Homo sapiens: one gene and its partners. The protein of the gene in region 1 purifies or fractionates together with the protein of each later gene. This does not show direct contact. Each region holds a gene or a part of one and is shown in the gene's direction. Other genes may lie near its edges.

Region 1 (4,040 bases):
TCAGCCCTGGGATCCCCCTCAGCCCCGGGATCCCCTCCTCAGCCCCGGGATCCCCTCCTCAGCCCTGGGATCCCCCTCAGCTCTGGGATTCCCTCCTCAGCCCTGGGATGCCCACTCAGCCCTGGGATCCCCCTCAGCCCTAGGATGTCCCTCAGTTCTAGTATCTCCTTCACCTCTGGGGGTCTACCTCCAAAGTGTATCAGGCCAGGTGCTTGGCTCACACCTGTAATCCCAGCACTTTGGGAAGCAAGGCAGGAGGATCACTTGAGGTCAGGAGTTCAAGACCAGCCTGGGCAACATAGGGAGACCCCCATTTCTACAAAAAAATTTTTTAAAAACTTGGTGGGGTGCAGGCCTGTGGTCCCAACTACTCGGGAGACTGAGGCAGGAGGATTGCTTGAGCTAGGGAGATTGAGGGCTGCAGTGAGCCATGATCCAGCCACTGCACTCCAGCCTGGGCGACAGAGCAAGAACCTGTCTCAAAGGAAAAAGAAAGCCCAGCCCCGGCTTAGTCATCCGATGCCATACGTGGGCTCGCAGTGTTGAGGAGGAGTTTGGCTCCCCTGTGCCTCTGCAGCTAGAGGGCAGCTAAATTATCAGTCAGATCACGCCCCCATCAGAGCCTCCCGGGGTCCCTGCACCTCCAGAGAAATCCCACCCACTCACCCCCACAGCCCACAGGGCTCACGGGCCCCAGCCTGCCAACCTACCCACTGCCAGGCCAGCCCCTCAGCACCACTCTGACCATACAAAGGCCTTCTGGACGCCCAGGCCCCTGTCACCTACTGCAGGACAGGGTGGCACAGGCAGGGCTGGCTGAGGGTGTGGAAATCTTGCCCCCGGCCCTTCTCACCAGAGGCTGCTCTTGCTGGTCAGTCACCAGGCTCAGCCTGGAGGCCACAGTCCCGACGGGGGTGTAGAGAAATTCCCATGCACTGCAGTGTGTCTTGGGGACCTTTCTCCTGTGAAGATGCAGAATGGTGCTGACTGGCTCTTTCCCCCGCAGCTCTACAGTCTGCTGGAGAGGATCAACCCGGACCACAGCTTCCCTGTCAGGTGAGCCGCTCCAGGCACCACTCCACGCACGGCCTAGGCTCCCCGTGCTCTTTGGTTGGGGCCCCTGACTGCCCCTTGCACCCTGACACCCCATACCCCTCCTCACAGACAGTCTGCAGTGGGGGCTCTCAGAAATAGCCCCCAGCTGCCCACTGCCGTTTTGTAAACCTGCTTCTCAAAATCACCACCCCATGTGATACTGCACTCTCCCTGCAGCTCGCACTGCCTCCGAGCAGCCGCCTTCTATGTGCGTGGGCTCTTCTCCTTCTTCCAGGGACGCTACAACGAGGCCAAGTAAGTGTGGGGCAGAGGGTGGCGTGAGGGCCATGCTCAGGGTAGCCCAGGCCCCGTCCTGCAGTTATCAGCGTCCATGTTCTCCTTGTCAGGCGATTTCTGCGGGAAACTCTGAAGATGTCCAATGCTGAGGACCTGAACCGGCTCACAGCCTGCTCCCTCGTGCTTCTGGGCCACATCTTCTATGTGCTGGGAAACCACAGGGTGAGTGCCCTGGCCTGGGCCCCTCGCTTGGGTGCCTGTGGGGCTTGGCTGAGGGACAGGAGCCGGCCAGCACCCTAAGGGTGGCATGGCACTGTTCATCCTATGCCCCTCGAAGAGCACGTCTAGGTGGATGCCCTGACTCCCACAGCCTGGGCAGGCAGGGCCAGAGGAGCTGGGCACCCACAGAGGGTGTGGGGGGAAGGCAGGAGGCCTGATGGGTGTGGCCTCAGACATTGGGCAGGCAGAGCCCCAGGGCTCAGGGGAGCTGAAGCCAGAACCAAAGGAGCTGCCCTGAGCTACTGGGGATGACGCAGCCACCCCATGCTATGTGTTGACACCTGAGGGGCAGAGAGGTGTCTCCTCTCAGCCGGACTTCCAAACATATCATCCTTGGCCAACACAGTGTCCTCTCAGGGTACAAGTGGCCCCTGGGATTGGTCCCCACCCAAGGTCAGCCAGTCTCTGGTGGGACTGGCCGCCTCAGTCCTTCCTGTCAATTCCTCGCCTACTCTCACCCACTGATCTCACGAGGTCTTGAATTTTTTTTTTTTTTTTTTTTTTTTAAGAAGATATTTTGGGCAGGCACAATGGCTCACGCCTGTAATCCCAGCACTTTGGGAGGCCAAGGCGGGCAGATCACCTGAGGTCAGGAGTTCAAGACCAGCCTAGCCAACATAGTGAAACCCTGTCTCTTACTAAAAATACAAAAATTAGTGGGGCGTGGTGGTGGACGCCTGTAATCCAAGCTACTCGGGAGGCTGAGGCATGAGAATCACTTGAACCCAGGAGGCAGAGGTTGCATTGAACGGAGATCATGCCGCTGCACTCCAGCCTGGGCAACAGAGTGAGACTCTGTCTCAGAAAAAAAAAAAAAAGATGTTTTTGGGACAGGCACGGTGGCTCATGCCTGTAATCCCAGCACTTTGGGAGGCTGAGGTGGGCAGATCACTTGAGGTCAAGAGTTCAAGACCAGCCTGGTCAACATGGTGAAACCTCATCTCTACTGAAAATACAAAAATTAGCCAGGTGTGGTGGCACACATCTGTACTCCCAGCTATTCTGGAGGCTGAGACAGGAGAATTGCTTGAACCCAGGAGGCAGAGAGGTTGCAGTAAGCCGAGGTCGTGTCATTGTACTCCATCCAGCCTAGGTGAGAGCAAGACTCCATCTCAAAAAAAAAAAGGCCGGGCATGGTGGCTCACGCCTGTAATCCCAGCACTTTGGGAGGCCAAGGCGGGCAGATCACAAGGTCAGGAGATCGAGACCATCCTGGCTAACACGGTGAAACCCCGTCTCTACTAAAAATACAAAAAATTAGCCGGGCATGGTGGCAGGCGCCTGTAGTCCCAGCTATTTGGGAGGCTGAGGCAGGAGAATGGCATGAACCAGGAAGGCGGAGCTTGCAGTGAGCCGAGATCCCACCACTGCACTCCAGCCTGGGCAACACAGCAAGACTCCATCTCAAAAAAAAAAAAAAAGATATTTTTGGCCAGGCACAGTGGCTCATTGCTTGTATCCCTTTGGGAGGTGGATGGGGGAGAATCCCTTGATCCCAGGAGTTCAAGACCACCAGCCTGGGCAACCTAGTGAGACCCTCTTTTTTTTTAATTTAATTTTATTTTTTGAGGCCGAGTCTCACTCCGTCACCCAAGTTGGAGCGCAGTGGCATGATCTCAGCTCAGCTCGTGGTAACCTTCACCCCCTGTAGGCTCAAGTGATCCTCCCACCTCAGCCTCCCAAGTAGCTGGGGCCACAGGTGTGTGCCACCATGCTCAGCTAATTTTTTTATTTTTGGTAGAGACTGGGTCTCCATGTTACCCAGACTGGTCTTGAACTCCTGAGCTCAAGCGATCCACCCACTTCAGCCTCCCAAAGTGCTAGATTACAGCATGACCCACTGTGCCTGGCCCTAGAGATGCTATCTCTTAAAAAAAAAAAAAAGATATTTTCCAGCCAGACACAGTGGCTCAGGCCTGTAATCCCAACACTTTGGGAGGCAGAGGTGGAAGGATCATTTGAGCGCAGGAATTCAATATCAGCCTGACCAACATAGTAGATCTGAGATCCCATCTCTACAAAAACCAAACAAAAAAATTAGCTGGGTGTGTGGACTCATGCTTGTGGTCCCAGCTAATTGGGAGGCTGAGGTGGGAGGATCACTTGAGCCCAGGAGGTTGAGGCTGCAGTGAGCTGTGATCATGTTACTGCACTCCAGCCTGGACAACACAGTGAGATCCGTCTCAAAAAAAAAAAGTTATTTTTCTAGATTATAAAATATGACATGTTCATAATTAAAAGGCTGAGAAGCAAAACAGAAAAAAATTGCATGTCTCTGTCATCCATCCCTTCCCACTGCCCACGTCTCCCACGTGGAGGTTTTGCTTGTCAGCCTGTTTGGTAATTTTTTTTTTTTTTTTTTTTTTTTTTTTTGAGATGAAGTCTTGCTCTCTTGCCCAGGCTGGAGTGTAGTGGTGTGATCTCGGCTC
Region 2 (4,040 bases), on another chromosome or scaffold:
CAAGCTCCGCCTCCTGGGTTTAAGCAATTCTTCTGCCTCAGCCTCCCCAGTAGCTGGGACTACAGGCACACGCCACCACGCCTGGCTAATTTTTTTATTTTTAGTAGAGATGGGGTTTCACCGTGTTGGCCAGGCTGGTCTTGAACTCCTGACCTCGTGATCCGCCTGCCTCGGCCTCCCAAAGTGCTGGGATTACAGGCGTGAGCCACCACGAGCGGCCTTGAGTAGGTTTTTAAAAGATGACCTAAGGCTGGGCACAGTGGCTTACACCTGTAATCCCAGCACCTTGGGAGGCTAAGGCGGGCAGATTACTTGAGGCCAGGTGTTTGAGATCAGCCTGGGCAATGTGGTGAAACCAGTCTCTACGAAAAAATTTAAGAATGAGCTGGGTGTGGTGGCACATGCCTGTAGAGTCTGAGGTTCAAACTGGGCATGGTGACAAGTGCCTGTAATCCCAGCTACTCGAGGCCAAGGCAGGAGGATCCCTTGAGCCCAGGAGTTTGACGCTGCAGTGAGCTATGATCACGCCACTGCACTCTAGCCTAGGTGACAGAGTGGACACCCTTACTTTGAGAAACAAAAAGAGTTTGGGCTTCATAGTGAGGGCAGGGAGGAGTCAAGGATTTCAGTTAGGGAAAAATGTTTTAATAGGGCCGGGTGTGGTGGCTCACACCTGTAATCCCAGCACTTTGGGAGGCCAAGGCGAGTGGATCACCTAAGGTCAGGAGTTCACGACCAGCCTGGCCAACATGGCAAAACCCCGTCTCTACTAAAAATAAAAATTAGGCAGGCATGGTGGTGGGCGTCTGTAATCCCAGCTACTCAGGAGGCTGAGGCAGGAGAATCGCTTGAACCCGGGAGGCGGAGGTTGCAGTGAGCCGAGATTGTGCCATTGTACTCCAGCCTGGGCAACAAGAGCAAAGCTCCATCTCAAAAAAAAAAATGTTTTAATAGGTGTGTACTTTAGGAAAGTGGTCGTGGTTACAGGATGGGAAATGGATTTGAATGGGAGCATGGAGACCACTTAATGGCCCATTGATAGCAATCAGACGAGATAATGGGCTTAAGAAAGTGGTAGCCGGGATGGAGAGAAGGGATGGAGAGAAGTAAAGGACGCTGGAGACGAAGGAGGAGGATGGTGAAGCCCTGGTTATTGAAGTACTCAGGGTGAGGATGAGGCCAAACCAAGATGATGGCAACCTCAACTTCATGGCATAGACAGTCCATGGTGGGAAACATGGGTGGGGCCTCAGGTTTGTACAGGAGAATGAAGTGTTCAGTTTTGAAGATGCCGAGGTGAGTACCTGTAGTCCCAGCTACTCGGGAGGCCAAAGCAGGAGGATCACTTGAGCCTGGGAATTGGAGGCTGCGGTGAGCCTTGATCACACCACTGCACTCCAGCCTGGGTGACAGCCAGAGTGCATCTCTAAAAGAATAAAAAGAACTTGAGGTGAGAGTTCCATGGGGCATCCAGTCCATGTGGATAAATTTGTAGCCACGTTTACTACACAGGCTGTGTAGCTGGGGAGATTCAGCTCCTAAAGCTTACAAATTAACCAGGTTTTGTGTTTTTTTTTTTTTGTTTTTGAGACAGGGTCCCACTCTTTCCCAGGCTGGAGTGCAGTGGTGCAGTCACAGCTCACTGCGGCCTCCACTTCTCAGGCTCAACCGATCCTCCCATTTTAGCCTCCCGAGTAGCTGGGAGTACAGGAGCACACCACCACACCTGGCTAATTTTGTTTATTTTTTGAGGAGACAGAGTCTCACTGTGTTGCCCAGGCTGGCCTCAGGCCTCAAGTGATTGTCCTGCCTTGGCCTCCCAAACTGCTAGGATTACAGGCCTGAGCCATTGTGCTCAGCCGAGTTTTAACCTGCTTGTTTGTTCTTTTTTCTATCTTTTTTATGTAGTCATCCAGAAGCAAGTTTTAACCGGTTTTAATGATCATTTTCGCCGTAGGTCTTTGCAAGGGAAGGAAATGTGCCCAACATCATCATTGCGGTGAGTACCCAGCCCTGGGCCTGTTGAGTGTCTCCATGTCTCATCCCACTGTCCGCTGAACTGCTTTCTTGTGCACAGCGCTGCCTCCCTGGAGAGCCCCTTCCCATTCCCCCGGCAAAGGGAAGTGTTTCACTCTAGTTGGGAGGCCTGGGGTTGGTTGCTGTATTTTTTTTTATTTATTTATTTATTTTTTTTTCTGAAACGGAGTCTCACTCTGTCACCCAGGCTAGAGTGCAGTGGTGCAATCTCTGCTCACCGCAACCTCTCCCTCCCAGGTTCAAGCGATTCTTGTACCTCAGCCTCCCGACTAGCTGGGATTACAGGTGCCTGCCATCACGCCCAGCTAAGTTTTGTATTTTTAGTAGAGACGGGGTTTCGCCATGTTGGCCAGTCTGGTCTTGAACTCCTGACCTCAGGTGATCTGCCCGCCTTGGCCTCCCAAAGTGCTGGGATTATAGGTGTGAGCCACTGTCTCCGGCCAGCTGTATTGATCTGTGTGTGCTGTGGGTGGAATGCAGGGGTCAGAGGTGACGGAGATGCAAACAGCAGTGAACATAACTCAAGAGCTACCTGAGGTCCTTCTGGTGGTTTGAAGTCTTTACTGGAGATCTCATTCCCAGGGCCCTCCAGGAACCGGCAAGACCACAAGCATTCTGTGCTTGGCCCGGGCCCTGCTGGGCCCAGCACTCAAAGATGCCATGTTGGAACTCAATGCTTCAAATGACAGGTAGGTCTTAGAGTCAGACCTGTAGGGGGGCGGGTGCTCTGCATTGAGAATTGTTACAGAAACAACCTTTCTCAGCATTGGGTTGTATGCGAAGCCTTGCCAGCTATGTGATTTCCTCCACCCCTTCCCAGTGAAAGAGCGTTGCTCACTTGTCAACTTGCCGGTTTATTTTTTTTGTTTTCATGGAAATTTTCAAAAACTGTTCTTCTCAGCCAGGCATGGTGGCTCACACCTGTAATTCCAGCACTTTGGGAGGCCGAGGCAGGTAGATCACCTGAGGTCAGGAATTCGAGACCATCCTAGCCAACATGGTGAAACCCCGTCTCCACTAAAAATACAAAACTTAGCTGGGCGTGGTGCTGGGTGCCTGTAATCCCAGCTACTCAGGAGGTTGAGGCAGGAGGATTGCTTGAACCCAGGAGAAGGAGGTTACAGTGAGCTGAGATCGCACCGTTGAGCACTCCAGCCTGGGTGACGAGCAAAACTCCATCTCCAAAAAAAAAAAACCAACTAGTTTTTCTCTTTTTTCAAGTTTAAAAATTTTTGTAGAGATGGGATCTCACTATGTTGCCCAGGCTGATCTCAAACCCTTAGCCTCAAGCAATCCTCCTGCCTTGGCCTGCTAAGTTGCTAGGACTATAGACACATGCCACCATGCCAGCTTTTTCTTGTGGAGACGGGATCTCACTATGTTGCCCAGTCTGGTCTCGAACTCCGGGACTCAAGCGATCCTCCTTGCATCAGCCTCCCAAAGTGCTTGGATTACAGACGTGAGCCACTACACTGGGATGTTCAACCAGTAAATATAATGCAAAATTCCAAAATGTGAAAAAAAAACCCAGATCTGAAATATTTCTGGTCCCAAGCATTAGGGATAAGGGATACTCAGCCTGTATATTTAAAGTGTATGGAAGGCCGGCCAGGCATGGTGGTTCATGCCTATAATCCCAGCACTTTGGGAGGCTGAGGCAGGTGGATCGCTTGAGTCCAGGAGTTTGAGACCAGCCTAGGTGACATAATGAAACCCCATCTCTGTATAAAAGTAAAAATAAAGTGTTCTGGAGGATGTGTATAAGTTAATATGCAAATACTATACCATTTCATATAAGGGACTTGAGCAAAAGTGAATTTTGGTGTCTGAGGAAGGGCCTAGCACCAGTCCCCAGGAACACCAAGGGACAGCTGCATATTGTTCACTCCTTGATTCTTCAGTTAGGGAAAATGTCTGGAGGATATTGGCATCTGAAGATTCATAGTCTGAGATTTTGCTTATTGATCAATTTCACCATCAGTAGCATTTAGAATGTTGCTATT
Region 3 (4,040 bases), on another chromosome or scaffold:
ATTTTCTTTCCCAGCTTCCACGATATCTAGCTTTTCTTGCTTCCCTGTGATTATTCGAAGGATTCTATCTTCTCCTTCTTTTTTCCTCGATGACCTTATGCATTCCCATGTCTTAAAGTGCCACCCATAGGCTAATAATCCCCAATCCAGCTCTGTTCTCCCTTCTCCTGGGCTCTAGATCAGCATCTCAAATCTCCTAGACATCAACACCAGAGTTACCAAAGGTCCCTCAACTGCAAAAGGCTCAAATCAAAATCAAGCTTAAAAAATAAAATAAAATAAAATAAAAAAACTTGTTCCTCCACTTGTAGCATGTAAGTTAATGGTACCAGTCATCTGGTTGTTGAGGTGAGAAACCTGTAACCCTGCCTCTGCATCACCTCTGCCTTTAATCAATTACCAAGTTCTTTCCTTTCTATCATCTATCTTATGGACCCTGGACCCACTGCTTCCCTGAATCACCAGCTCTCACTTCAGAGTCCAAGAAGGACACATCTAATCGCTGTCTAGGCCAAGTGCCAAGACTTGTGCCCAGTCTCCAAGCGGCTGGGAAAGAAAATACTTGGAGATTTCACATCCCATTACAAGTGAGTTCAGTTTCTCACTGAGCCTCAGAATATGAGGAATTCTCCAAAATGAAGACGTCCAGATGACAGCAACACCAAACGTGAAACCATGATAAATGTGTGCACCCCCTGGATTACTGCACAAGCCTTCTCACGGACCGCCCTACTGTCAGTCTTGTCTTCCTCTTTCCCTACCTCTGTCCCGGATCCAGACTGCAATCAGTTATCTCTCAAAAATGTAAGTCTGGTGATGTTTCTCAAGGACTTAACACTCTTCCTTGCCTACTGACTACCCATAACATAAAATGCAAGTTCTCTGCATGGCTCCAGGCCCTCTCTGACCTAACTCCTGCTTTCTAGCCTTATCTCTGGTTATTTTCCCATCTCCAGATAGATTTCTGTTTAGCTGAAATGCTTAGTAGAATTACCTGAGTCTGCCATGTGCTCTCTGGGATCCAAGTCTTAAAATACATATTTGCCAGTATCCTCTTCACCTCCCCGCTCTTCCTCATCCCTCACACATCATTCTTTCAGCTTTCTCTCTTTCACAAAGGTTTCCTGATCCTGACCTTGCTGTTGCTTCTAGGTGCTATCACAGCACTTTGTTTTTCTATACCACTGCAGGATGACTATAGCTAACAATAACATACTCTATAGTTTCAAATGGCTAGAAGGAAGATGTTGAATGTTCCCAACACAAAGAAATCATAAATGTTAGAGATGAATATGCTAGTTGCCCTGATCTGATCACTATAAATTGTACGTATTGAAACATCACTAGGTACCCCATAATTATGTATAATTATTATTTGTCAATTTAAAAAATAAAATACAATTTAAAAAAAGACATACTCAATTATATAAGCTTATTATTTAGTTGTAATTTGTATTAAGTTCCATGAGGGCAAAAACCTTCTCTTTTTCAAGGTCATATCCCCGTCCCTAGCGCACTACCAGGCATGTGGTAGATAGTCCATAAATACACTTCGAGTGGGTAATTCTGGTCCATGTAGTACATCTATCCCAGCTTAGGCTTCACAATTTCGTCATGTCAAGAATCAAAGGTTTTGTTGCAATTATTTCCTTGGATTTTCAGCTTAATCTACCACAGGTTTGGTTGACACAAAATGTTTTTCAATCTCCTTTAGCACTGATTTCAACACAAAAACTGAATTTCTTTCAGGCCATAATAAATAAATAAATAACAAATAAAAAACACAGTAGCTTTCTTTCAAAGAAAAATAAATTTTACAAGAAATGCAATAAATGAAAATATAGTCTGTTGTGCCTTTGGTACACAAACCTACTTTCAGCCCCCGAGTCTCCCCCTCTCCACCTTCATGTCTCTTCTGGATCCATGTTACCTAATGGCTCATCTCCCCACACCTTGTAAGAGTTGATCCTGATCCTGGCTTCCCCTAAAGTTATCTACCATGTGTGCTGACTGAGGGGCCAATTGTACTTCAGAGCTCATTACTGAGAGAAACCAGGCTGCCTTGGTAGGACAAACTATAAAACGTTTTGCAATATACAAAATGGTACTGGGTGTCCTTGCAATAGACACCCAGTACCATTGCTGGATTGGCTCTGGTGGACGTTCCAGGGTCATCTAATTCCACAGGGGTCTATGCCTTTTATTGTCTTTACAATTTTACAACTCTGTAAGTTGGAAAAATCTAAAAACAATGCAAATTATACTGGTGCATAGATATACAAATGATTTTTTTTCTAGTAGAAATGCTATAGTTTTCCACTCTTATGATTCCAAACATTGTATTTTATTGCTCTATAGATATTAACCAGTTTCAAATCTATTACCAACTTCATATCAGCATGCCTGATTGCCTACATGTGTCTCATCTTCAGCGTCTCCTTTGAAATAATTGTAATATATTACTGATTTTTTCAATTGTTAAATAAAAGCTCAAATACATGTTATTTGATTTTTATATATTACTATACCTTTGCCTTTTCAAAATCATACTTTAACTGCCTGTTTCTCATGAAGAAAATACATTCAAGTATTAAAAATACACTGAATATAATTGTTCCTCATATACGAGCCATATCTGAATAACTGGAGACCAGTCAGGATGTTTCTATCCTGCAGCACAGACTGGACAAAGGAATTAGAGTGATATTTGGGTTAGTAAAGTCAGGGAGAATGATGACACCCTCTGAAGGATTAAGGATTTACTTGAAGAAGAGTGCGAAATATGGTTCAGTAGATAGAGTAGGGCTAGCATGTGGTGAATCTAATAATTCAGGCACAAAAAAAGTAACTATCTTTCTAAGAAGACATGTAAGACAAAAGTACAGTATTCCACTTAAGAAGATGGGGTATGTTAACATTGAGTTTCAGGATCTCTGATTAACTACCCTCTGTTAAACAGCAGGTCTATGACTCACTGCATCCAGTGAAGCAGTAGGCTCTTGAGCTGGATTTCTACAACCCCCTCGACTCTTGCATAATGTATTTTGAAATTAGAGATTTTCTTAGATGGGAAGATACTTCTACGCAAGCAACTCAATTCAGTCCTCTGAAGACACACCATTTCTGGGGAATGTCCCACCAAGTTTACTCCTGACTGACACAAGGTAGAAAGTTGAGGTTCACCACATCCAGGAAGCTTCCATTATTCACTCCTAGACTCAGTCTTGTGGCAGACATCACCGCTGATGTTTTCTAGATCGTCCCTCTCAGTACTCTATGAACAATATATAGCAAAAGAATGGCACACTTAGAGTAACAAGGAGTCATTGCTTCACAATATAAAGTTCAAAATGTCAGTGGAATTTAAAGCTGTAATAGCTTACAGATAATGAAATACCTTTTATTTAATTCTGCTGATATTCCCATGTAAGTGTTCTATGCCAGGCCTCTAGTTATCTCATGCCCTTTAAGATTAGATTAGACTCTCATAGCCCCCAGGTTTTTCTCACTTTCCTTAAAAGCCTTATCAAAATTTTATATTATTAACATATTATTTGTTTAATATCTTCTCTATCTCCTCCACTTTACTACCTCCCATGACTTTTAACTCCTTGAACATGATAACTGTGCTGTAAGTCTGGATGAAGGGTCAGCAAATTTCAGCCCCTGAGCCAAATCCATCCCAACCCTTTTTGTATGCCCTGCAAACTAAGAATGTTTTTCTCATTTTAAAACTATTGTTTAAAAATTAAATATCAAAATAATAATAGTTTTAACACATTAAAATGATATAAAATTCAAATATGAGTGTCCATAAAGTTTTATTGGCACACAGTCATGCTCATTCATTTCCATCATCTTTGGCTGGTTTCATGCTCATGCAGAGTTGAGTAATTATAATAGAGGCTGAACAGCTCACAAAGTCAAGAGTATCTACCATCTGGCCCTTTCCAGAAAAGTTTGCCCATCCCTGGCATACAGCACAGCTGTACTTCCAGCACCTGAAATTTAATAAGTGATTATTACCATCTGTTGGACTG
Region 4 (4,040 bases), on another chromosome or scaffold:
GCTCAAGAGTTTAGCTGTTTTTTGTTCGTTTGTAGGTCTCACTCTGTGGCCCAGGCTGGAGTGCAGGGTGTGATTATAGCTCACTGTAGTCTCAAAGTCCTGGGCTCAAGTGATCCTCCTGCTTCAGCCTCTTGAGTATCTGGGACTATAGACATGTACCACCATGCCTGGCTTATTTTTTAAATTTTTTGTAGAAACAGGATCTCATTATGTTGCCAAGGCTGGTCTCAAACTCTTGGCCTCAAGTGATCCTCTCACTTGAGTCTTCCAAAGTGGGGGGATTACAGGCATGAACCACCACACCTGGCCAAAAGAGTGGTTTTTAATCTTTAATGGTTAGATTTTTAGAGAGCTTTTTTTGTTGTTGTGTGGTTACAAATGATGAGTTAAATGTGGATTATGATTTAATTGTTAAGCATATTATACACACACAAATACAGATGCAGATCAAAGCATCCAGATGGCAGTTCATGACCTTCTTGGGATTTTACCAGCTGTATGATTTTATGATTATACCTTCTTTTCTTTTTTCCCTTTTCTTTCTTTTCTTAGCTACATATTGCACAATTGGTTTTATTTTGAGAATGTTGTGATAGTCCTTAAGACAAATGAAGATAGTTTAGGGTTCTGAAAAACTAGAGTGAAGTGATTGTTGCACTGCAGTGTCATTGTTGAGAAGTATGAAAAATTAGAATTGTTTTTTGCTGCATCACAATACTTTTGATGCAGGGTTAACTTTATTTTCTAAATTCAAAATTAATATTAAGGTAATAAATTTATATGGGATAGTAATACTTAGGCTAAAATGAAATTGCATATGGCTGACACATGTATGCATGTTCTCTTAGACAAATGACATCTCAAATTGGAAAAATTCAATAAATTTTTAGGTGTTTATTTTTAATTGTTATAGGCTATTTTTATAAACAAACAGTTTTAGATTAATGGAAACAATGAGGAAATAGTACAGAGTGTGCCTATAATACTCTCTCACACAATTTCTCTATTATTAACATTAATGTGATATATTTGTTATAAGTAATGAACTGATATTAGTACAGTCCATGGTTTATTCAGACTTCTTAGTTTCTACTTAAACTAAGTTTTCTTAAACTAAGATTTCCTTAGTTTTACTACTTTTTCTGTTTCAGAATCACATCCAGGATACCACATTACATTAACTTGTAATGTCTCTTTAGGTCCCTCTTGGCTGTGACAGTTTAATCTTTTTTTTTTTTTTTTTAAACAGGTCTAGATGTGATGATACTTATCTCTTTGAATTGTTATTATTTTTTATGTGTCTGCCTTCTGCAGCTACTTGAATGGTCTTTAAAAGGCAGCTTAACTTTTTTTGAATTTGCCTTAGTACCTAGCATAGTGCCTGTAATGCAGTAGTAAGTCCTTAGTAGATGGTTGTTACATGAATGAATGTTTGCCCGACTTTAAGAATTCAGGCCATGGCAATATCATTAGGTCAGTTGGTTTTATGTACATGAAAGAACAGTCCCTGAAATGCTTTGGTCAAACATGTTGTCTTGATACTGGTAGAAGAGATTCATAGACTGATTTTAGATATGAAAGTTTTGGGTCTTTTTAAAAATAATGGAATTTAAATTTTGAATGGGAAATACATATACATAGACATAATTCACAGTGCACGTTCAAAAGTAAGTCTTCTTAAATTGCTGCCATCCTGTAGTCACTTCCCTAGAGGTAACACTTGACACCTCTAGACTTCTACAGTTGTATGTGCCATTCTCCAGATATTCTAAGTGCATTATTTTTTTCCCTTCTATTTTACATAAATGGTAGCTTTCTGTGTACCCTTGCTTTTCACTAACAATGTTTATAGTAATTGGTTTTTATTTGTATATATAGAGCCGCTTTATTATTTTTAAAAACCACATTGTATTCCATTAAATACCATTAATTATTTAACCAGTACCCAGTTACTGAGTATTCAGGTTGATTCTAGTCATTTGCTATTACCCCTCCCTCCGCTCAAAAGTAGCAGTAACTATTCTTGTACGTGTTCATTAAACACATGAGAAAACCAAAAGTGGAATTAGAGGTCAAAGGGTATGTACATTCTTAATTTTAATAGACATTGCCAAATTGCTGTTTGTAGAGGTTACAAATCTACATAGAGGTTAACCAGTAACTGTTAACTGATCTATATTCCTATGAACAATGTATTAAAGTGCCTTTGTCCTTACACCCGCACCAAAACAATGTGTTAAGATAATAATAGCTAACATTTGTGAATGCTTACTGTGTGCCAAGCTGTTTCTTTGTTTTAATGCTCTTTACATGTAACAATTAATTTACTCATCAAAACAATCTCATGAGGGAAAATAGTGTAAGATTCCCTTTTTTTGGAGGCAGAAACTGAAGCATACAAAGTTAAGTAACATATGTCAAACTTTTTGCTATTTACTACTCTGATAACTGAAAAATAATATATGATTTTATTTGTTTAGTTTTTCATGTTTAGGGGCCATTTGTATTTAAGTAGCAATTGGTGGAGCCACCTCCACCTTCTGCAGTAATTCCCCCTCTGTGGTCCATGCAGTGTTCAGCCTGGGGTGACTGCCTGGATTCCTTGTCCTTTAAGGATAGTCCAGAACAGAAAGCAAATAACATTTATTATGCCTCTATTTTAATATTTTAAACAGACATTAGAATATGTTTATGAGTTTCCCCCCTTTCGTTTTAGTTCAACACAAGATGAGACACATGTGAATACTGGGTCATCGTCTGAAGTGGTGCATTTGGATGATGCTTTTTCTGAAGAAGAGGAAGAGGATGAGGATAAGGTTGAGGATGAGGATGCTACCGAAGAGAGACCATCCGAGGTTTCAGAACCTATTGAAGAGTTACATTCCAGACCTCATAAATCTCAGGAAGGCACGCAGGAGGTTTCAGTTCGACCATCAGTTATTCAAAAACTGGAGAAGGGACAGCAGCAGCCCTTGGAGTTTGTTCATAAAATTGGGGCCAGTGTGAGAAAATGTAACCTAGTAGATATTGGTCAGGCTACAAATAATAGAAGCAACTTGGTACGCCCCCCAGTGATTTGTAATGCTCCTGCTAGTTGTTTACCTGAAAGCTCTAACGATAGACCAGTTACAGCTAATACAACTAGTTTACCACCAGCAGCTCATTTGGATTCAGTTAGCAAATGTGACCCAAACAAAGTTGAGAAATATCTTGAACAGCCAGATGGGGCCTCTAGAAATCCTGTGCCATCATCCCATGTAGAAACTACTTCATTTTCGTATCAGAAACATAAAGAATCAAATAGGAAATCTTTACGCATGAATTCAGATAAGTTGGTTTTGTGGAAAGATGTAAAATCTCAGGGTAAAACTTTATCAGCTGGCTTGAAATTCCATGAACGCATGGGTACTAAGGGCTCCTTAAGAGTTAAATCTCCTTCCAAATTAGCAGTAAACCCGAATAAAACTGACATGCCTTCTAATAAAGGAATCTTTGAAGATACTATTGCAAAGAACCATGAGGAATTCTTTTCTAACATGGATTGTACCCAAGAAGAAAAGCATTTGGTTTTTAACAAGACAGCCTTTTGGGAACAGAAGTGCTCAGTGAGTTCTGAAATGAAGTTTGATTGTATCTCTCTTCAGTCAGCATCTGATCAGCCCCAAGAGACTGCACAAGACTTAAGTCTTTGGAAGGAGGAGCAAATTGACCAAGAAGATAACTATGAGTCTAGAGGTTCAGAAATGAGTTTTGATTGCAGTTCCTCTTTTCATTCACTGACTGACCAATCTAAAGTGAGTGCCAAAGAAGTAAACCTTTCCAAGGAAGTACGTACTGATGTACAGTATAAGAATAATAAATCTTATGTTTCTAAAATAAGTTCTGATTGTGATGACATTCTTCACTTGGTTACCAACCAATCCCAAATGATTGTTAAAGAAATAAGTCTTCAGAATGCAAGGCATATTAGCCTGGTTGACCAAAGCTATGAATCTAGTAGTTCTGAAACGAATTTTGATTGTGATGCTTCACCTCAGTCC
Region 5 (3,127 bases), on another chromosome or scaffold:
CTGTCATGACTGACACCATGGTAGTCTGTCAGCTTGACCAGTGGAGAGTCATTCATTTAGCACAAGCAGCTGGAGATTTAAACTGCCAGTACTATGTATTTGGTGTATAATGCAAGGAAGAAACTTTATCCTTGAATTTGAGGGTGATGGGGTGGGTCAGGAAAGGATGGCGCCAGAATTCTACATGATAATGAACTAAAAAATGTTGCTTTTCAGAGGAAGATAAAGCATCTTCTTTTGGGAGGGGGGTATCTCATGTCTAAGTAAGTAAAAGAAAGAAGTAGCTACTGTCTCTTTTAAAAACCACGTACAAAACAGAACAAGTCTCAGTTTTCAGTGCAACATTTCAAAAAATATATATGCTGCAATCTAATAATTAAAAGGAATTTTACCTATTATGAAACATATTACATTTTTTAAGTTAGATAATCAGTTTCAAAAGGAGTATTCAGGTTATTTAACTTTGTTTTTAAATGGCTGCATCAGAAAAAAATGTCTATTTTTTTTTATTAAAATATTTCATCACTTGTTAAAACATATTTTTGATCTGAGTTTGGTAAAGTATTATTTTACCTGCTGTTGTACTACCACAGACTGTTGACTTTTAGTTTCTTAAAGAGAAAAATTGCCTTTTTACTAGAAAGCCTTTGTATATTGCAATTTTTCTGTTTGGGAAAATCTAAGGATTTACTGTGGTTAGTCTTACAGAAGAAATGTGGATTTGATAAACTAGTGCCTATGATTTTAACTTATGTTTGATATATAGTAGTAAGGGTTTTATGAATGTTGATTATTTTGTGCCAACAGCCCAGAATTGTCACTTATATGTAAGCAGAAAACAATGAGCTCTGCTTCCAAAGTTATTTAATTTTCTCAGTGTTTGAATGTTATTTTTTGTAAGTGTGTTAATAAAAGTGTAAAGAATTGGAAAAAATATAAATATTCTTAACTCAAGCATTTGCTGGATCATTTTTCTACAAAACTTGTTTGTACAATATAAAACACTCTCTGAAGAGTTGACTTTTTTTCAGTTTCGTATCCTGGAAATCACATTTTGTAAAACTGGGGACCATTCATAATTGTCAGATACTTTTTAAAATTATCTCAATACATCACTTTTATAAAAAAAAAAAGTTTTTTTGAAAGAAAATTAGATACATATGTGGCCCCAGATGTTTGTATAACTCTAGAATGATCTAGACTATGTATGTTTAAATTAACTTTTTATTGAATGTACAGGTGTCCATTTTTGACGTTAAGCATGGTCCTTTAAGGTCACATGACGTTTGATTTGCAAACATTTCTATAGCCGAACTTGTATATGTGGTTGCCTCCTTAATAAACAGCCTGACCATAATGTTTATTATTAAATTTATATTCTTTAAGTGTTTAATTAATCTCTGGATATGGTAAGATTCCTTTTTTCCTCTCAGTTGCCTACACTTGGTTTTAATAAATTACTCAGTTGAGTTTTTCTTTAACCACAGAAACCCAAATCATATTGCCCTTTCAGATTTAGTCTTCATGGGGTTGGATTATGTCTTATATTTTCTCTGTCAGAGTTATTTCATATATGGATTTTACTTGAAGGAAATTTACAGTTTACTCTAAATTGATTTGTTCTTGGAACTTTTTTACCTGCTGTGAATTGATACCTAGTTATAAAAAGCTAGCATTTGCCTAGATCATAACTATGTATGGTATCTAGTTAGAAAAAAACAAGCAAAAAGCTATTATGAGTTTCCAAGAGGGACAATTAATGCATTTTCATACCAAATGCGAATATTTAGGTGATCACGTGCATCTTTTCTTGTATGGATGGAAAAATCAAGAATTGTACACTGTTTAATGAGTTCTCCATATTCCTTTAGGAGATATTTGCTTTGCAATTACATGTTACAATTAGAATAATTACAATTAAAATAATATTACATGTTACAATTAGATTAATAGTGATGAGAGGGAAAAAAGACACCCTTCTGTTTTTTTCTCTCAAGCCAGTCTAAAAACTTGAAGAGCCATTTAAAATTAAATGTCACTATACTTGTATTATAAATCAATACATAAGTTTAAACCTGTTATATACTCAGTGCAACAGAAAAACCCATATGGAGGTTCAACCACTGATGTATTTTGAATGATCCTAAATATAAGTCTTGGGTGGCTAAATGGCCCTCTGCTTACCAGTCTGAAAATGAAACCGATTATACTCATCGGCCTTATTTACTGTAATACAAACTGGTTAAAACTATGTTAACTGAATGCTAGTTTGAAACAAATTATCTACATTAAGTCATCTTAATGTTTTCTCTTTAAAAGAAATAAAAAAATCTGTTTCTTCTGATTTCGAAAGTAATAGAAACTCTGCTGTAGAACATAAACTAAAAATATTAAAAAGTATAAAGGTAAAAAATGATAGTTGTCTGCAATCCCATAATCCGGAAATATTGAAGTACTGTCCGTAACATGGTTATGACATGTTAAGTGGAAGGGTAGAAGGTCTTTTTTTTTTTAAGGAGAAAATGTTTCTTTTAAATAAATGTTTCTTATGTAAAAATGTTGACATGAGTTTGCTTTTGCACAGAAGTATACATTAACTGCTATTGAAAGCTTGGCATATATCTTAATTCCTGATTTTAGATATTTCTTGATAAAACTATCGTATGTATTGTTTGTATTGTTTATAACATTAATTGGTTTTTTACAATTTATACTTTTTTTTTTTTTTTAAACAGTCTTGCTCTGTTGCTCAAGCTGGTGGAGTGCAGTGGCATGATCTCGGCTCACTGCAACCTCTGCCTCCCAGGTTCAAGCAATTTCCCTGTCTCAGCCTCCCAAGTTGCTGGGACTACAGGCACATGCCACCATGCCCAGCTAATTTTTGTATTTTTAGTAGAGACCGGGTTTCACCATGTTTGTCAGGCTGGTCTCAAACTCCTGACTTCATGTGATCCACCCACTGTTGTACCTGCTGTTGTATTTTTTACCTGCTGTTGTACTACCATAGACTATTGACTTTTAGTTTCCTAAAGAGAAAAACTTTCTTTTTTTTTTTATGAGATGGGGTCTCACTATTTTGCCCAGGATGGTCTCGAACTCCTGGGCTCATGCGATTCTCCCGCCTCAG
Region 6 (4,040 bases), on another chromosome or scaffold:
GAGTGCATGCTGAGTTTGAGTTAAATCTTCTGGAAACTCCGTTTTTATCTCACCTGCACAGCCAACAAAGAAAAACTAGATCCAGTGGTCCCTGTTAAGATAATGTGAAAGATCTGAACAAATTCAATGAACAGATGTCATTTCCTGCAGTAAGTTTATTTTTATTTTATTTCTTTATTTTTTTTGAGATGGAGTCTCACTCTGTTGCCCAGGCTGGAGTGCAATGGCATGATCTCAGCTCAGTGCAACCTCTGGCTTCCAGGTTCAAGCGATTCTCCTGCCTCAGCCTCCCAAGTAGCTGGGACCATAGGCATGCGCCACCACGCCTGGTTAATTTTTTTGTATTTTTAGTAGAGGTGGGGTTTCACCATGTTGGTCAGGCTGGTCTTGAATTCCTGACCTCAAACGATCCACCCGTCTCAGCCTCCCAAAGTGCCACCGTGCCTGGCCATACATGCTATTTTACATACTGCCTAGAAGAATCTGCGTACTTGGAACTTTGGTTTTAATGTTGCATGGATATTCCAGGAAGAATTTTGTTGTTTAAGAAAGCTTTTTTCCTCTTAGTAGAAATAGCCAAAGATCCAGCTTGTGGAAGTGTAAATAACCTCTTTCCCCACCACTCTGCTCACTTTGTTTCCTGTGATCCCAAGGATCACATTTGTGGAATGTGCTTGTTCTCAAAAGCAGCCATTCTGTTTTGTGTTCCTCACACCTTGTGAGTCAAGAAAAGGGTCATAGCTGGATGCAGTGGTTGCTCATGCCTGTAACTGCAGCTGTGTGGGAGGCTAAGGCAGGAGGATTGCCTGAGTTCAAGGCTGCAGTGAGCCATGCTTGCACCACTGCACCCCAGTCTGGTTGACGGAGCAAGACCTCATCTCTTTAAAAAAGAAAGAAAAAAGTCATTACCATTATTATTACCTAGGCCTCCAATTAATTATTAAAAGATTCCTTGACTAATGGGAAATGATTGAACCAGAAGAGGGTGGTTTTGAGTGATACCTTCCTCCATGGTGAGGTGCTATCTTTCCTCACCACAGCACATCTCCAGTGACTTTAGTTGTGAAAGATCCGTAGAGAGTCTCCTCAGGATAGCATTAGGTACCAGTTGCAGTGCTGGCCTGCCCCTCATGTTGGTTTTTTCCTTTATTTATTTGAGACAGGATCTTGCTCTGTCATCCAGGCTGGAGTGCAGTGGCAAGATCACAGCTCACTCCAACCTCTGCCTCCTGGGCTTAAGCAGTCTTCCTGCCTCAGCCTACCAGGTAGCTGGGACCACAGGCATATGCCATCATGCCTGGCTAATTATTTTTGTATTTTCTGTAGAGACAAGGTCTCGCCATGTTGCCCAGGCTGGTTTCGAACTCCTGGACTCAAGCAGTCCTCCTGCCTCTGCCTCACAAAGTGCTGGGGTTACAGGTGTGAGCCACTGTGCCCAGCAGTTTCTTCCTTTAGATATGAGGGCATCCCCAGTTAAGTCAGTTGACATGTCCGCTTTTGTTAGTTCGATGAGTTTAACCCTCAGCGGATAGCTTTCTGTCAGCTGCCTCCAAGCAGTTCAGTGTGGCAGCCTTGAATGTGCTGGAGGCTGGAGTTGAGCAGCTCTCTGGGCCAGACGCCTCATCTGGGGAGTCCTTGGAGCTGGAAGTGGGAGGTTGTTGGGGGACAGGGTGGATTGTAAACTTTGCAGTTCAGCCCAGGACTCTGGTCCTGGTACTGACTGCTTGTTTCCTTGTTGAAATAAGATAAAGGAAATAAAGACCTAAACACAAAAGGGAGGAAATGAGTTATTACATAACTCTAGGGAACGAATTATGTTTTAAAATGAAACATCTGCACAAGACTCTTGGGTAAGGGGATAGTATTTTATTTTATTTATTTATTTTTGAGACAGAGTTTTGCTCTTGCTGCCCAGGCTGGAGTGCAATGGCGCGATCTCAGCTCACCGAAACCTCCACCTCCTGGATTCAAACGATTCTCCTGCCTCAGCCTCCTGAGTAGCTGGGACTACAGGCATGGGCCACTACGCCCGGCTAATTTTTTGTATTTTTAGTAGAGACAGGGTTTCACCATGTTGGCCAGGCTGGTCTCAAACTCCTGACCTCAAGTGATCCGCCCATCTCAGCCTCCCAAAGTGCTTGGGATTACAGGCGTGAGCCACCTCGCCCAGCAGGGGATAGTATTTTAGTGTCTTGTTTTTCTTTGTGTCTCTTAAACACCTAATTCAGAGTTGACCCTCAGTCATAGTTAGAATTAAGCTGTTTTCTCTCTATAAAAATGACCTAAACACACACCTAAACGAACACCCCCTAACCCAGAAGCTTTTTTTGTTTGTTTTTATAAGACGGAATCTTGCTCTGTCACCCAGGCTGGAGTGCAGTGGTGCGATCTTGGCTCATGGCAACCTCTGCCTCCCATAACCCAGAGGATTTTAAACCCATGGGTTAAAATCTGCTTTATAATAATCCAGGGCCCCACTTCATGGGCCTGAATCTTTTGGACTGGACATCTGTCCAGAATGGGCTGTAGCCCTGCCCTCCCCAGACAGAGCCAGGAGGGTGAAATATTCCTATAGCCCAGACAGACCCTCCCTGGTCATCACACCTATGCCAGGTTCCCGTAGGGGGTATAGAGGAGAGAATTTGGGGTCCAGGGAACGTTTGCCTTCTCACCTGCCAGCAGCGCTCTTGCCAGGACCTCGCGGAATACCTGGTGAAGCCCTGGAAGCAGTTGCAGAGCTGTAGTTTCGGTGCGATGGAGGTGGGGCATTACGAGACTCAGTCAAAACCTTCCTCCTTCGCCCTCCCAAACATTTACTGAGGATAAAAGTGCAGGATGTGTTTTGGGAACGTCAGTAGTCACTGCAGTGGGGAGTAAGGCTGCAGCCATAAGCTGGAGCCAGAGCCGAGGCCCCCCCAGGGGTTGGGCTTTGTAAAGGAGCCCCCAGCAGTTCTAGAAGCGGGAGGGTAACATAATTGAGTCTGTGTTTTAGAGACCTACCCCTGGCAGGAGTGTTGATTTGAAAAATTTCCGATGACTAATGCCTGCCTGAAACCAGTACTGCTGCCTGCTGGGATGAATAGCTGTCTTTTCATGCAGGAAGAGCAGCTGTGATTATAAAAAGCCTGAACACTGAAGCCCCCTCAAGCTGTTCACGAAAGAAGTTGAAAGCACTGGTGGAACCAGGGAACTGAGTGCATCAGATTGAGGGAAATAGCTTACTCCCTCCCACCGTGAGGAGCTCCTACTACATCCTCAACTACCGTTAACTCCCACCCCTAAATGTGCCTTTTAGGCTGTTCAAATAGATAAAAATGCCAGCACAAAGCATCTTGGTGGTCCTTCCTGCCAGGCAGGCATTGTGGTATGCGAGTTCTCAGTGCGTGCACCACCCGCTCGCCTCGCTGCTTGTGCTCACCCTTTGGTCGCTAGAGAGTGCTCCGTATCCCTGGGCATGACCGGAGTCCTAAGATTTCTTCAGCCTGCGGACTGTTTATCCTTCCTTTATATATATGTATAAATTTTTAAGGGTTTAACAACATATTGAAACTGAAATACCAGACAATAATGATAAGGAAGATTGTTTCTTTTTGTTTTGGTGGTGGTGGTTTTTTTTTGTTTTGTTTTGTTTTGATTTTTGAGACAGGGTCTTGTTCTGTCTCCCAGGCTGGAGTCCAGTGGTGTGATCTTGGCTCACTGCAGCCTGGACCTCCTGGGCTTAGTTGATCCTCCTGCCTTGGCCTTCTGAGTAGCTGGGACTACAGATGTGCATCATCACTTGCAGCTAATTTTTTTTTGGGGGGGGGGGTAAGGTTATAGATTAACAGCATCCCAAGGCAGAAGAATTTTTCTTAGTACAGAACAAAATGAAGTCTCCCACGTCTACTTCTTTCTACACAGACACAGTAACAATCTGATCTCTCTTTTCCCCACATTTCCCCCTTTTCTATTCGACAAAACCGCCATCGTCTTCATGGCCCGTTCTCAATGAGCTGTTGGGTACACCTCCCAGACGGGGTGGCGGCCGGGCAGAGGGGCTC
Region 7 (4,757 bases), about 30 Mb from region 1:
TTTTCTGAAGTCCACCTCCCTTCCAGCTCTGTCCCAGTGTCACCCTGAGTCTCCGTCTCCTAGATCCCCTCTCTTCCTCCCTAGTCTAGGTATCCTGTAAGTTGCCTCTGCTAACTGTACCTTTGCTGTCCCCAGGGCCGGGCTCATTAGCCCTCTGAGTCCTTTGAACCCTCTGGGCCCACCGACGCCCCTGCCTCCACCCCCACCCCCACCCCCAGGCCTCCCCACCTATGAGCAGGCGCTGGCAGCCTCTGGGGTACACGACGCACCTCCACCCCCCTACACCAGGTATGGGGCGTGGCTTCTGCCCGGGGGCGGGGCGCAGAGGGGTGGGCACGTTGGAGGAGGAACCTGGGCTCAGGGGCGGGACTTGGAATTTGGGCCTTCTTACCTGGGGCGGGGCTTGGAGTGCGGGGGCGGGGCCCCATGCAATGGTCTAGGGGCGTGGCCCAGCGTTGTATGTGTGGAGCCGTATAGGAGGGTGGGGCCTGTGCCCAGAGGGTCCTGGATTGGCTGAGACGCCAAGGGCGGTCGGAGTGGTCCTGGTTGAAGGGGGGAGAAAAACAGCCAGATCTTTGACTCCCTAGTGTGCCTTTCCTCTTGCAGCCTCAGGAGGCCTCACTGAAGAGCTGCTTTCGAGACCCGGCTCTCCGAACCGTGCCCCTGATTCATACCGGATTCCGGAAGCCGCTAGGCCTCATAGACGCCGAAGCTGGACTTGGAGTGGGGAATGGTGGGAGTAGGGGTCATCCGGCCCGAGGCCTGCCCTGGCACACGCGTTTCCGCCGCGTATGGATATACACATGTTTTCGGCAACGTGTTCCCGTGTCCTGGCCCCTCACGGGCCCCCACACTCTCCTGACCGTGAGGGCACTGGTCAGTTCCGCCCCCGTGGTAGGCAGACGCGCGGGGAAATTCGGACCCAGGAGCCCAGCCCCGGCTGTGCCATCTTGTGTATGGGCAGATATGACCTGACAGCCCCCTCCAGTGCCACAGGGTACGCACACGCAGAGCCCCGCCTGTGCACACGCGTGTCTTCGTGCACTCCCCGTGCGGTACAGGGGCACTTCGTAACCCAGGGAAAGGGCGGGGGGCATATTTGCAAGCGCGCTCGGTGCGGGCAGGCTCGCATTGCACCCAGGGAGCTGGAGTTGAGCTGTTCCCCTAAATAAAAACCCTTCGGAAAGGAGACCAAAAAAAGCAGAAATAATGCAAAAAATAATAATGAAATGAACTGCGATCCCGGGCGCATCGGAACTGGTTTTCTGTGCAAACGCGCCCTACACCCCCAGGCCCTGCTCGCGCTCAGTCTCTCTCTCACTCTCCCTTTTTTTTTTTTTTTTTTTGCATTTGCACGGGATTGTGGGAGGAAGCGGAGCGCAGCCAGACACCCCGCCGCCCGCCCCCCCTTCCCCTCCCCCCTCCCCCAGCCGCCTTGTGCAAAGATGGCTGCACCGTGAGCGCAGAGGAGGAGGAGGCGGCGGCGGCGGCGGCGAGAGAGCGAGCACCCAGCGCCTGCACCCACCCCGGGGCCGCCCGGGACGCCCCCTCCCGAGCGCGCGCCCCCCCTTTTCTCTCGCAAGCGCCGGGGCAAAGGCGGAGACAGCGGGGTCCCTCCTCCCCCCTTCCCTCCTCTAGGGGGAACCCCCCTTCCCCCTTCCTTGGCTCAGCGACTGCACCCCCTCCCTTGCCCGCCCCTCCGCCCCTGCCCCCTCCCTCCCCCGCCCGGGGCCTTCCCGGGCCTTCGGCGGCTGCAAAGAAAAAAAGAGAGAGAGAAAAGGGGGGAAAAAAAAGCAGCAGCGGAGGGAGCGGCGGCGGAGGAGAGCGCGCGCGCGCCCCCTCCCTCCCTCCCTCCCTCCCCCTCCCCCCAATTTCCACCGCGGCCAATTCATGGACAGGAACTACCCCAGCGCCGGCTTCGGGGACCCGCTCGGCGCCGGGGCGGGATGGAGTTACGAGAGGTCAGCGAAAGCTAGGTAAGGAGCTGAGGGTGGCCTAGAGAAGGGGGCCAAGGGGTGGGAGCCCAGCCGGGCCGGGCCGGGCCGGGCCGGGCCCGCCCGGCGACGCGTGCATCGCAAACTCCCCTCCGGCTTGCAAGGGAGCGGCCTTCCTCGGTTTGTAACAACGCCGCCGCCCCAGTTTGCAAATTGCAAACTCCGCCAAAGCCAGCTCCGGCATGCAAAGGGAGAATTGCAGCGGGAAAATGGGGGTGCAAAACAATTTCGGACGGGAAGGCCTTGGGAAGGTGGGAGGGACTGGCGAAGCAAGGCCTGGACTTCCCCCCATCCTTGGATTCCCGGCTTGGTGACCCCTCCCCCCCGCGCCCCAGGCACTGCTCTTGCAAAGGTGGGAAGAAGAGAAGAATTAGAACGCAGATCTGGGGGGCGCGAACCCCCTCTCAGGTCCTATTGTTCCGGGACTGTGCGAGGCCGCGCCACTAGGCGCCCCCCCAAGAATTCCGCGCGCAGAGTGGGCACGGGGCCCCGCCCCCTTCCTAAGCTGGGGTTGTGTGTGTGTAAGGGAGGGGGTCAGGCGTCTGGGACACGCCCCCTTTAATGCCCCCACCCCCAAAGGCAGAGAATCCTAGTTGATCGCAAGGAGTGGAGCGTTTGCCCTCTTGAGTCTGGCCACGGACTGGTGCCGTTGCATGGGAAGAGTCGGATGTTTCCCGGGTGTGTGTTTGTGTGTCTGAGCGTGGGCCCTGTGCGTGCGTGGCTGGCAGCGTGTTCACCTGTGAATCTGCCCCTTTCCTGTTGCTTATTGGTGTGGCGCCCTCACACTTCACCTATCCCCAGCACCTCCCCCCCAACACACCTGGATTTCCCAGCAGGGCATAACCCCAAGTGTGTCAGGATTTTCCGTGTGGGATTCCTCCGTCTATATCTTTTCTTCCCCACGGGTGAGTTGGATACCCGTTTGCACACATACCTGGCATTGCATGGGCCCATGCATTTGAACCTCAACCCCCGGGGATGGTCGGTGTTCTTGTTCACACTTGTACCTGGTACTTTCCCCAGGTCTTATTCCCTCTTCTCTCCACCCCCCAAACCGTTGCCGCTTGGGAACCGATCTTCCTCCTGCTCCCAACTTGTTCTGCACCACCCCATGAAGTTCAGGGCCTATGTGTTCCCGTGTGTCTACGGAAGAGGAGGCGTCCATGTGGACCTCTGGCGTTGGCCCCATAGCCTGTGTCGCCGGAACGGGGGCTGGGGGGGGTTTGTGGGGTCGACGGGGGAGGGCTCTCATTTGCAAATCAAGACGCTTGCTCTGCCTTGGACCCTCTTCTGTGTGTTAGTCTCGTCTCTGAGCATGCCTGTTTGTAAACGTGAGACTATCCGGGCTCTCTTTATTCGGGCTCTGGAGTGGGGGCCATTTCTGTGGCTCTTTAGTTGAGCACCCCGATTCCCTTGTGTTCTCCCCTTTAGGGCCTACGGTTCCTTAGCTTAACACCCCCCACCCCGGTCAGCTGGAAGGGTCCCCCCAACTCCCCGGGGGGTTTTCTGAGCTTCCTTCTCAGAAGGCAGCTTGGAAGAACCCCCTGACGTCTCCCCTTTCCCCCCAGCTTGGTTTATGGCAGCTCCAGGACCTCGCACCCCGAGACGGACATCTTACACCGCCAGGCCTATGCGGCCCCCCACCCACTGCAAAGCTATGCCACCAACCACCACCCGGCAGGTACGGCCCCCATCCCGCCCCGCTTTGGGCTGGCCCTCCCCCTCCCCCCGAGGCAGCTGATTGGCTGTTGAAAGTTCCGCCCCTCCTAATTGGCCGTGGCCCGTGCCGTGGCCCGCCCCTTGCTGTGTCTCCTCTGATTGGTTGCCTTTGAGGCTGCTGGTCGCTGCTTCATTTCTCGCCGGATTCGTCCGCCCCTGCCTCGCCCCTCCCCTTTCGCTCCAATTGGCCCTGTTACCATCAGCCCCCAAATCCCACCTTCTCTTCCAGGCTTTTCCGCCTCTCCCCAACCCACCCCAATTCTTTCCCTCTGGGTTTGCCCTATTCTTTTGGCTCTTTGGAACTCTGAATTCTTTCTTCCTGATTCCCTTTCTTCCTGATTGGCTCTAATTCTCTGGCCCGCCCTGTTTTATCTTATTTTGCCCCATTGCCTTATTCTACCCACCTTGCCTTTGCCTCCAAGGTTTCTGATTGGTTCCCTCTTCCTAGGGGTACTGGTAATGACATGATGCTGTCCAGTTTGACCCTTGACCCTCCTGATTGGCTCCTTCCCTTTTTCCCTCCCCATCTTTTTTTCTGAACCCTCCCACTTAGCTCAATCCTTTCTGACACGTTCTCTGGTCTTTCTTAGACTTCATTGTCCCATCCTTTCCTCTTCCTTGCTGGAAATATCCAAATTTGGTCTCCCTCCCAGCCTTACTGAGGACTCTGTTCTTTTGCTCCTGGCTCTTTCGCTTCTAGATTTTTCTACACTTTTGTCTACCATTTCCTACCTGGGCCCCCTGTCCTTATGACTGGATTGCCCCTTGTCTTGCTTTACTGTCTCACCTTTCCCCCTTCCCTCCCCTCATTCATGTCTCATTAGCTTGGTTCTATCCATCTTGTTTTTGAATTTGCCCTTTTCTCTCCCATCCCCTCCTTTTCCTGATCCAACTTGCTTTTGGCCTCTTCCCTTTCTCTCTTGACTGTATCCTACCCACCCCCACCTGGCTGACTATAACCCCTGTCCCCGGCCAGGCCTCTCTGGACTCTTCGACACTGGCCTCCACCACGCGGGCTCAGCAGGGCCCGACGCCTCCGTCATG

The links.
Region 2: the proteins of MAU2 (region 1) and RFC2 purify together in Homo sapiens (affinity purification with mass spectrometry, with the first as the bait; one large-scale study listed by BioGRID). This does not show direct contact.
Region 3: the proteins of MAU2 (region 1) and PALLD purify together in Homo sapiens (affinity purification with mass spectrometry, with the first as the bait; one large-scale study listed by BioGRID). This does not show direct contact.
Region 4: the proteins of MAU2 (region 1) and ZDBF2 purify together in Homo sapiens (affinity purification with mass spectrometry, with the first as the bait; one large-scale study listed by BioGRID). This does not show direct contact.
Region 5: the proteins of MAU2 (region 1) and SLAIN2 purify together in Homo sapiens (affinity purification with mass spectrometry, with the first as the bait; one large-scale study listed by BioGRID). This does not show direct contact.
Region 6: the proteins of MAU2 (region 1) and POLDIP3 purify together in Homo sapiens (affinity purification with mass spectrometry, with the first as the bait; one large-scale study listed by BioGRID). This does not show direct contact.
Region 7: the proteins of MAU2 (region 1) and PRR12 purify together in Homo sapiens (affinity purification with mass spectrometry, with the first as the bait; one large-scale study listed by BioGRID). This does not show direct contact.

The regions. Positions count from the first base shown.
Region 1 is NC_000019.10:19,347,883-19,351,922, forward strand, and holds part of MAU2 (MAU2 chromatid cohesion factor homolog), read left to right. Parts: intron 1-1,006; coding exon 1,007-1,056; intron 1,057-1,272; coding exon 1,273-1,350; intron 1,351-1,442; coding exon 1,443-1,554; exon of another isoform or gene 1,555-1,559; intron 1,560-4,040. UniProt on the Homo sapiens protein: Plays an important role in the loading of the cohesin complex on to DNA. Forms a heterodimeric complex (also known as cohesin loading complex) with NIPBL/SCC2 which mediates the loading of the cohesin complex onto chromatin.
Region 2 is NC_000007.14:74,247,698-74,251,737, reverse strand, and holds part of RFC2 (replication factor C subunit 2), read left to right. Parts: intron 1-1,957; coding exon 1,958-1,999; intron 2,000-2,517; exon of another isoform or gene 2,518-2,619; coding exon 2,620-2,726; intron 2,727-4,040.
Region 3 is NC_000004.12:168,506,895-168,510,934, forward strand, and holds part of PALLD (palladin), read left to right. Parts: intron 1-465; exon of another isoform or gene 466-682; coding exon of another isoform or gene 683-804; intron 805-4,040. UniProt on the Homo sapiens protein: Cytoskeletal protein required for organization of normal actin cytoskeleton. Roles in establishing cell morphology, motility, cell adhesion and cell-extracellular matrix interactions in a variety of cell types.
Region 4 is NC_000002.12:206,302,001-206,306,040, forward strand, and holds part of ZDBF2 (DBF4-type zinc finger-containing protein 2), read left to right. Parts: intron 1-2,716; coding exon 2,717-4,040.
Region 5 is NC_000004.12:48,423,645-48,426,771, forward strand, and holds the end of SLAIN2 (SLAIN motif-containing protein 2), read left to right. Parts: 3' UTR 1-2,557; downstream 2,558-3,127.
Region 6 is NC_000022.11:42,608,022-42,612,061, reverse strand, and holds part of POLDIP3 (polymerase delta-interacting protein 3), read left to right. Parts: exon of another isoform or gene 1-149; intron 150-3,099; exon of another isoform or gene 3,100-3,327; intron 3,328-4,040. UniProt on the Homo sapiens protein: Is involved in regulation of translation. Is preferentially associated with CBC-bound spliced mRNA-protein complexes during the pioneer round of mRNA translation. Contributes to enhanced translational efficiency of spliced over nonspliced mRNAs.
Region 7 is NC_000019.10:49,589,765-49,594,521, forward strand, and holds the start of PRR12 (proline-rich protein 12), read left to right. Parts: upstream 1-1,417; 5' UTR 1,418-1,890; coding exon 1,891-1,976; intron 1,977-3,562; coding exon 3,563-3,675; intron 3,676-4,689; coding exon 4,690-4,757. Other genes in the region: PRRG2 (transmembrane gamma-carboxyglutamic acid protein 2 isoform 1 precursor), read left to right, coding at 136-288, 607-625.